Homo sapiens: one gene and its partner. The protein of the gene in region 1 purifies or fractionates together with the protein of each later gene. This does not show direct contact. Each region holds a gene or a part of one and is shown in the gene's direction. Other genes may lie near its edges.

The links. Proteins that work in one complex are often made in the same cells at the same time.
Region 2: the proteins of SETD4 (region 1) and PMM2 purify together in Homo sapiens (affinity purification with mass spectrometry; one large-scale study listed by BioGRID and IntAct). This does not show direct contact.

The regions. Positions count from the first base shown.
Region 1 is NC_000021.9:36,056,867-36,062,443, reverse strand, and holds the start of SETD4 (SET domain-containing protein 4), read left to right. Parts: upstream 1-1,917; 5' UTR 1,918-2,097; exon of another isoform or gene 2,098-2,622; intron 2,623-3,470; exon of another isoform or gene 3,471-3,519; 5' UTR 3,520-3,555; coding exon 3,556-3,628; intron 3,629-4,966; exon of another isoform or gene 4,967-5,059; coding exon of another isoform or gene 5,060-5,060; intron 5,061-5,239; coding exon 5,240-5,335; intron 5,336-5,577. UniProt on the Homo sapiens protein: Protein-lysine N-methyltransferase that methylates both histones and non-histone proteins. Via its catalytic activity, regulates many processes, including cell proliferation, cell differentiation, inflammatory response and apoptosis.
Region 2 is NC_000016.10:8,800,135-8,804,499, forward strand, and holds part of PMM2 (phosphomannomutase 2), read left to right. Parts: intron 1-1,664; coding exon 1,665-1,776; intron 1,777-4,365. UniProt on the Homo sapiens protein: Involved in the synthesis of the GDP-mannose and dolichol-phosphate-mannose required for a number of critical mannosyl transfer reactions.

The DNA.
Region 1 (5,577 bases):
AACATCTGGTGGTGCACAAGCGGTAATTGTTTTAATATTGCTTAGGTGGAGGTGAGTGCTTGTTTAGCTGCTAGAGAAAAAGAAAAAACTTGTAACCATTAGAACAGAATTTATTCTTGAAGTGACTTAACTCTTTCCTGGAATGGCCTTAGGTCTTGTTTATAATTTTTGTATCTTATTGCCACAAAAAGTCTGTTCCATCAGTCTCATGGTCTCTATTTTAACATCAATGCTGGCCAGTTGTATCTAAACTGTAAAAGAGAGAGGGTATAATGAGGCATGTCTGACCTCACATTCCATCAGGGCTGGGAACTAAGTTTCTAAGTTTTTTTCTGGGGCCATCTTGGCCAAAAGGGGTTCCATTCAGTCAGTAGGGGCTTAGGATTTGTTTAGTTTACAGCTGTTAGAAACTATGTTAGTGTTTAAATCTTTTAGTGTTGGGGGGCAGGGGTGAATAAAATCATTTGTGTTTAGAATCTGTAGTTTAAATAGGATTTGTGCTCCGTATGCTGAGCGCCGGTCCACTGGGCCCACTTTTCTTTCTCTATACTTTGCCTCTGTGTCTCTTTTTTTTCTCAGTCTCTCATCCCACCCGATGAGAAACACCCACAGGTGTGGAGCGGCAGGCCACCCCTTCACTATTTACATAGTATTTACATTGTATTAGATGTTATAAGTAATCTAGAGATGATTTAAAGTATATGGGAGGATGTGCATAGGTTATATGCAAATATTACACCATTGTGAAAGTTGCAGAATCAAAATGGAGTCACTTGTGTCAAAACCCTGATAAATGCAGCTGGGGAAGGCCTTGAAGGAAGGGTTCTCATGCACTACGCCTCATAACAAGAATTGTCACAAAAGACCCTAACCTTGCAGAAAGGCCCAATCTTAAACACAGAAAATCCTTCTGCAAGGACATCTGTCCAGCAACTTTGGACTGATGCTACCTTTGTTATTCATTCTTTTAGCCAAAGATAATTGATTTAAAGCAATTCATATAATCTTCATTTTCCTTTTAAAAACATCTCCTTGCCTCAACCTCCCCCAAAACGCACACAGTTTACTATGGCATGCATATTCCCATTGCAATGCTACTCCCAGATAAATCTCATTTTCTTTTAGGGAGCCTCTTTTGTTACTTAGGTTTACACCATTGTATACAAGGGACTTGAGCATTCTAATTCTGGTATCCGCAGGGTCCTGGAACCATTCCCCCACGGACACTAAGGGACAACTGTACTTGTTTTTCATGACAGAAAACATGTTTAGGAGTACTAATTTTTTTTCCCCCATAGAAGATTTCCATAGAAGGGTTTTGGAGAGAGACACCACAGGAACATGCTATCAGCATGATTTCTTCCTGATGTTATCCTTGACCACCCGGTAAGGTACTGTTTGCCAGGTTTCTCCACTGTAGTCCCCAACACCATTCCAGGCTGTACTCTTTGGAATCAAGTTACTAGGCATAGCCCATAATCAAAGTGGGGGTGGGTGGGGCAGAAATCGAGCTCCCGCTATTGGAAGAAGGGGTATTTAGATATATTATTTAGAATTTTCCTGTGAGGCGGGTCCTGGGGCCAGAATGAAACGGTGGAATGGGGGCGGGGATTGGCGAGCAAAGTGACTCGACCCGGCAAACCCAGCCTGGCAGGAAAGCCCGAGGTCTGGGCGAACAGGGCCGCGCGCCCTAGGTGGTTTAACTTCGTAAGGAAAGACTCCGCAGGCCGGCTTTTCAGTGCGCAGCTTGCTCGCCTGCGGGTTACTGGGTTTTCTGACCCCTGACTCGACGTAGGGGTTATGGGGCTGTGGGTGTGCCGACCTCGTCCCCGACTGTACTGGGCGTTGGCGGCGAGTCCGCGAACACTGCGCATGCGCGAGCCGGAAGCTGCCGCCCGCGGCGGAAGGGGCGGACCCGGGAGACTGAGGACTTGGATTGCTTAAGGACACCAGGCAGGCGCGACAGCCTTCAGCCTCTCCCTCTGCAGTTTTGGCCGGTTCCTTTAACTTGCCTTCATCTGGGGCTGTTTGGTATTTCCACGTGCCTTGGGCCCGCCCACTGCAGCCTCCATCTTGGAAGCGGCCGCCGGCGCCTAGGTGAGCTAGTAGGACTTCCGGGTCGGGCCTCCAGTTGCCCGGGTAACGGGAGCAGAGTCGGCGGGGTGCGTTCCTTAGTCTTTCATTCATCAGCGTAAAAAGAACTGAGTTTAGGTCGCAGGTCCCCTCCAGGGCAGGCATTATCGTGTGCGCTGCAGTAACCTCTCATCTTGTGGAGTCCTACACTTAGCGCATGTTGCTCCGGCGCGCTGCGTAAAGCTGAGGAGCCTGAGGCCCGAGGTCCGATGCTCGCCTGGCTGGCCTATGGCTGCGGGAGCGGTGTGTGTCGGACCGTAGGACGGCCTCACGGCTAGAGTTTGAGGACTATGGGGGCGGGGACGGTGCCTGTGTCTGTGGCGGTCACCGGGCTTCACGTGGTCCTCAGCAGGGTGATGGTGGACAGCTCGCGCGAGGGCCCGGGAGTCTTGGGGACACTTCCCGGCGCGGTCTGTGGACTGAGCGCTGGGACCCGCACCGAACCAGCCGCCGTTCGCCTCTGGAGCTGGACATGCCGACTTTCGTTAGGTCAAATAATGAACCTTATACTGCGGAAGTGCGGTATTAATATTGCCTGGAGTTCTTGTCTCTTGCTCATTTCTGCCCTCGTATGTTTTAGAAGTAGATTTATTTTTTATTTTTATTTTTTTAATTTATTTTTTGTGACAGAGTCTCGCTCTGTCGCCCAGGTTGGAGTGCAGTGGCGTGATCTCGTCTAGCTGCAGCTTCCGCCTCCTGAGATCAAGCGATTCTCCTGCCTCAGCCTCCCCAGTAGCTGGTATTACAGGTGCCTGCCACCACGCCCGGCTGATTTTTGTATTTTTAGTAGAGACGGGGTTTCACCATGTTGGCCAGGCTGGTCTTGAACTCCTGACCTCAGCCCGCCTCGGGCTCCCAAAGTGCTGGTTTTACAGGCGTGAGCCACTGTACCCAGCCATTATTTTATTTTTATTTATGTATTTATTTTTTTATTTTTTTGAGACGGAGCCTCGCTCTGTCGCCCAGGCTGGAGTGCAGTAGCGCGATCTCGGCTCACTGCAACCTCCGCCTCCCAGGTTCAAGCGATTCTCCTGCCTCAGCCTCCCAAGTAGCTGGGATTACAGGCGTGTGCCACCACGCCTAGCTATTTTTTGTATTTTTAGTAGATTAAGCTGTAGTCACTAGGTCTGCAAGATAAAACTGTTTTAGAGGGACTGATATAATGGGAATTCTGTTACTGTAGGGATCATGATTTAGCTCACAGTATAAACGTTTCATGTACAAAAGCACTTGAGAGAAACAGTTTACCAAAACATACATTTGTATACTTAAAGGTACAAAGAACAGTGATTATCATATAACTGGAAAGTAAATCAAAGAAATGTTTTTTATTTTAGATTGAGCATTTCCACAGAAATTACAGTTTTGTCCTTTTTGAAAAAATAGAACTGTATTTCAGAAAAAAGAAACTACAGTTTTAGCATGCAGAAAGGAAAAGGGAGAACAAGCCGGATCAGAAGACGAAAACTCTGCGGAAGTTCTGAATCAAGAGGAGGTATGGTTTTTCTTTTAGTACCAGTAATGAAAAAAGAAATCCTTTTGTGATTGCTTGTTTGTTCATACGTAGCTTTTCTTTCTTTCTTTCTTTTTTCTGAGACGGATTCTCGCTCTGTCACCCAGGCTGGAGTGCAGTGGTGTCATCTTGGCTCACTGCAACCTCTGCTTCCCCGGTTCAAGCGATTCTCCTGCCTCAGCCTCCCAAGTAGCTGGGACTACAGGCGTGAGCCAGCATGCTCGGCCTAACACATAGCTTTTCTCAAAGGCACACAGTGTTCAAAGAGAATCTTTCTTTTTTTTTTTTTTTTGGAGACAAGGTACATTCTGTTACCCAGATTGGAATGCAGTGGCGTGATCATGGCTTGATCTCCCAGGCTCAAGTGATCTCCTCCCTTAGCCTCCCTCCTGCCTCAGCCTCCCAAGTACCTGGGACTACAGGTACATGCCACTGCACCCGGCTAATGTTTTTTTAAATTTGTTGTAGTGACAGGGTCTATGTTGCACAGGCTGGTCTTGAACTCCTGGGCTCGAGTGGTCCTCCTGCCTTGGCCTCCCCAAAGCACTGGGATTACAGGTGTGAGCCACTGTGCCCAGCCCAAAGAGAATATTTCTTAAATAACACTCTTTTTTAATGGTGCCATTGTATTCTTTTAGATCCTGGTGGGAATGTGAAGATAACTAACTCATTGTTTCAACTGTCTTCTCTGGGGATGACTCCCAACTTTCTTTTTCTGGTCTTGACCTTCAGCTATCTGTAGGATATCAATGTTTGGATGTAAATTTATGACTTCAAATTCAGGGTAACCCTGTCTGAAGAAGATACTGTATCTTGTTCAATACAAAAGTGCTTGGCCATCTGGAAAGTCCTATGTAAATCCAACTGGATATGGTACAAGATATCGATAAGCTCACTTTTTTTTTTGCTGATGGAGGTCCAGTTGTTTGATCATCATTTATTGAAAAGACTATCTTCTTCCACTGATTTGCCTTTGCACTTTGTCAAAAATTTACGTGTGGACCTCTTCCTATTTTCTGTGTTGTTCCTTTGACCTATTTGTGTCTGTTTTGACAATATCACACTAATTTGATTACTGTAGCTTTATAATAAGTTTTAAAATCAATCTTTCAAAGATATTGGGGCTATTCTAGGCTTTTTACATTTCCACATGAATTTTGGGATCATCTTGTTAATTCCTGTATGAAAGCCTGCTTGAATTTTGATTAGGATTACATTGAATGAATATAGTCGTATGTTGCATAAGTATGTTTTGGTTGATGGATCACATGTACAGTGGTGGTCCTCAGATTATAATATTGTATTTTTTTTTTTTTTAAGAGATGGGGTCTTTCTGTGTTGGGCAGGCTGGGCTCAAACTCCTGGCCTCAAGCAGTCCTCCCGCCTTGGCCTCCCAAATGCTGGGAATACAGAAGTGAGTCATTGCGCCTGGCCAATACTGTGTTTTTATTGTAACTTTTCTATGTTTAGATACACCAATTCTTACTATTGTGTAAGTCTGTCTGACACATTTCATCAGACATGTTCTTTTAAAAATGGTAATCCGATTATATAGTGGTTTTAATCACCATTTGTTCTCTCCTTGCCTGATAGTGAATGAGAGCCACAAGTCTGAATTTATAGAGCTGAGGAAGTGGCTGAAAGCTAGGAAGTTTCAAGATTCAAACTTAGCGCCTGCTTGTTTTCCAGGTAAGATCTAGCCTTCAGCTGTCCTGCCCTTTCCCACACGAGAGCCAGGTAGACAGCAGGGGCCACTCTTGCAGGTGGGCCTCAGCAGATATTGTCCTTCAGCTGGTTTGCATGTGTTCCCCTTGGGTTGGAGGAGGAGTCCCCTGTGTATGGCCAGTTAATTGCAGAGCAGTGGGCTTCAGCACTGAACTGAGGTAGACTGACATTCTTCTCTGGAACTTGTGCTTATTAGGGAGGTTAGG
Region 2 (4,365 bases), on another chromosome or scaffold:
GATCACTTGAGGTCAGGAGTTCGAGACCAGCCTTGCCAACATGGTGAAACCCAGTCTCTACTAAAAATACAAAAAGATTAGCCGAGCATGATGGCGGGCGCCTGTAATCCTGGCTACCTGGGAGGCTGAGACAGGAGAATCGCTTGAACCCAGGAAGTGGAGGTTGCAATGAGCCGAGACCACACCATTGCACTCCAGCCTGGGTGACAGAGCACGACTTCGTGTCAAAAAAAAAAAAAAAAAGACATTCAGTGTAAATGTACAACTGAGATTGCTCAAAGTGCTGAGTTATAAGACTTGTAAAAATACATTGTGATGTGTCTTAATGTAGGGCTATTTTTTCATCTTAGTTTATAACTTTTTTAAAATTATCACACAGTTTGGAATTTACCATAAGATTATACCACTAAGACCACTCTTTCTAGATAGGAGCTTTGCTTTTAGAAGAGACTAAAAAATCTAGTTATCTTACTCTTTTACATTTTTGTTTTGTTTTGGGTGATTGCAATAAAATCAATTCTAAGCTTCTCCTTTTTTTTTTTTTTTTGTTTTGTTTTGTTTTGTTTTGAGACGAAGTCTCGCTCTGTGACCCAGGCTGGAGTGCAGTGGCACGATCTTGGCTCACTGCAACCTCTGACTCCCGGGTTCAAGTGATTCTCCTGCCTCAGCCTCCCGAGTAGCTGGGACTACAGGCGCCCACCAGCGCGCCCGCCTAATTTTTGTATTTTTAATAGAGACAGGGTTTCGCCACGTTGGCCAGGCTGATCTCGAACTCTGACCTCAGGTGATCCACCCGCCTCGGCCTCCTAAAGTGCCGGGATTACAGGCATGAGCCTCCATGTCTGGCCCTAAGCTTCCTCTTTAATTTCATTATGTTGTTTTATTTTAAAATCAACAACTTAAATCCATAAATGGAGTATAGTGTAGCATTTAAAAGGAATGATGAGCTAGATCTGTGTTGGCATGAAAAGATCACCACAGCATAGTGCTGAAAAACCAAAGTCCCTGCACAGGACATGATTCCATTTATGTTTCAAAAATAAGACCTATTTGTATATGTGCCCATAGATGGGTATATAAATGCATAGAAAAATAGCTGGGACAGTGCACAACAGCTACTAACATATTACCTGTGTTTAAAATTTGGTAAAAATAACACTTAAGTTTATTCTGGTAAAGATGCCCCCCCAGTTACAACTAAAATATTTGAACTATGTACAGAGCTGGTAACTTAATTGGCATGTATGAAAATAAGGCTTATAGACCTGGCTTATACCTGTAATCTCAGCACTTTGGGAGGCCAAGGCTGGTGGATCTCCTGAACCCAGGAGTTCCAGACTGGCCTGGGCAACATGGCAAAACTTAGTCTCTACAAAATATAAAAAAATTAGCCAGGTGTGCTGGCACATAACTATGGTCCCAGCTACTCAGGAGGCAGAGATAGGAGGATCACCGGAGTCCAGGGAGGTCGAGGCTGCGATGAGCTATGACCATGCCACTGCACTCCAGCTTGGGTGACAAGTGAGACCCTATCTCAAAAAAAAATTTTTTCTTTAATTTTTAAATAAGAAAATAAGACTTATGTACTTGTGTTACCCTTAGAGTTTTGGTCTCCTGATTATTGTGTGGCTTATGACTGTTGTATTTTCTTTCTTGAAATTTAGAAAATTACCAAAGAAATGGATGACTTCCTACAAAAATTGAGGCAGAAGATCAAAATCGGAGTGGTAGGCGGATCGGACTTTGAGAAAGTGCAGGAGCAACTGGGAAATGATGGTAAATGATGGGTTGCTAATTACATCTGGTAAAAGATTAACTTCTTATGAGGATATTGTTGCCAAGTATCATAGGCTGCCCTAAAACCTTGTCCCCATATGGCGGGCTTTCTGCTTCCTTTTTTGGGAAACATTTTCTTGGCCTTTGCTTTTCCTCTGCTTTTAATCCAGTACATTTCTGGAGTTACTGATGGAGAACTGGGTACTCAGATGTGTGAGTAGATTCACCTAGAAAGGTCAGTGGCTGTATCTGCACATGATAATCTCTCTGCCTGGAATACTTCTTGCTTGTACCCGTTGACAGCCCTTCTAGCCCCAGTCAGACCGGTCTTCATATTGTCCCTCTGACAGCCCCCCTCACCTCCCCATCACTGAAACAGAATCTCCAGCACAGGACCCCGAAAAACCAGAGAGGCTTATTGACCCCTTCACTGGAGAGTCTGACTTGATAGGTCTGTGGAGCCTGGGAATCCTATTTCAGTGAGTACCTCTGAGAGATTCTAGTGTACAACCTTGCTAATGTAGCATTCTGTAATTATTGTAAACTATCCGATTATATGTTTTTGAAGAGCAGGAGTATGGGTTATTCATCTCCATAGCCACAGGGCCTCCTGGCCTGTAAGAAATTGTAAGTGGATGCCAGGCGCGGTGGCTCACGCTTATAATCCCAGCACTTGGGGAGGCCGAGGCGGATGGATCACCTGAGGTCAGGAGTTTGAGACCAGCCTGGCCGACATGATCAAACCCCATTTCTACTAAAACTACAAAAAATGAGCTGGGCGTGATGACGGGCACCTGTAATCCCAGCTACTCAGGAGGCCGAGGCAGGAGAATTGCTTGAACCCAGGAGGCAGAGGTTGCAATGAGCCGAGATCACACCATTGCACTCCAGCCTGGGCAATAAGAACGAAACTCCGTCTTGGAAAAAAAAAAAAATTATAAGTGGAGAGGTGGATGAATTGATTGTTCTTTTAACCCCTGTTGTCCCCAGAGTCCTCACATCTTGGAACCAGCTCCTCTAGAGCAAGATTTCTCACCTTCGCACTATTGATATTTTGGACCAGTTAGTTCTCCATTATGAAGGCTGTCCTGTGCATTGTAGGGTCTTTAGCAACATCCCAGGCCTCTACCCACTAGATGCCCACAGCATACACACACGCACACATACGGCTATGACTACCAGAAATGTCTCCAGACATTGCCAAATGACCTCTGTGTAAAATTACCCCCGTTTGAGAACTACTGTTCTCAAAGATGTAATATGTTACAGTCCAAATCTGTATGGACTGTATTTATAGGATCACCATTACTAGAAGAGTAATCTCTGCAATCTCTTTAAAACTCTCTCTTCCACTTCCACTTCATTTTCCTGGTAGATCTCCTACTTAGAAATGCTATAAACCGCATACTGGGGATCACGAAGCCCTGAAAATCCTGTTACCTGCTCATGATCGCCCTTTCTGCATCTAGTTGTGTATTTAACCACTTGCTCAGGGAAGTTTTGTGTAGTGTAGCATAGTGTCTGCACCTGTCAGAGACATGCAACAATAGAATCAAAACATTCACAGGCCAAAAGACAGTTGAAGGCCCACCTGTATCAGAATCACCTGGGAAGCTTATTAAAATATGAGTGTGGGGTCCCCACCCAACACATAGGGGATCTGCATTTTAACAGGTACCTGAAGTTTGAGAATCCCTTCATTAAGGTTGACAACATGGATAGTTTCCAAACCAAACTGATTATAAGAATCACTGAAGAGCTTTTTTTAAAATTTATTTTATTTATTTATTTATTTTTATTTTTTTGAGACAGTCTTATTCTCTGGTGCAGTGGCACAATCTTGGCTCACTGTAACCTCTGCGTCCTGGGTTCAAGTGATTCGTGTGCCTCAGCCTCCGAAGTAGCTGGGACTACAGGCGCCCACCAGCACGCCCGGCTAATTTTTGTATTTTTAGTAGAGACGGGGTTTTACCATGTTGGCCAGGCTGGTCTTGAACTTGCGACCTCAGGTGATCTGGCCACCTTGGCCTCCCAAAGTGCTGGGATTACAGGCATGAGTCACCGTGCCTGGCCACCAAAGGTCTTTTAGTGCTTTGTTTTTTGTTTTTTGGGTTTTTTTTGTTTTTTTTTTTTTTTTTTTTGACGTTAGACAGAGTCTTGCACCGTTGCCGAGGCTGGAGTGCAGTGGCACAATCTTGGCTCACTGAACCCTCTGCCTCCTGGGTTCAAGCAATTCTCCTGCCTCAGCCTCCGGAGTAGCTGGGGTTACAGGCGCACACCACCATGCCTGGCTAATTTTTTGTATTTTTAGTAGAGACGGGGGTTTCACTATGTTGGCCAGGCTGGTCTGGAACTCCTGACCTAGTAAAACCCCGCCAGCCTCAGCCTCCCAAAGTGCTGGGATTACAGGTGTGAGCCACACCGCACCCGACCCAAAGAGCTTTTTTAAAAATATATTTAGCCTGTCCCTCAGCAATTCTGATTCAGGAAGCGAGAGAGCAAAGCTTGGAAATCTGCATTTTCACACTGCCCTGGTTGCTGCTGGTGAACCATCAGCATCATGGACGAGTATCTTCCTCTACAGACAGT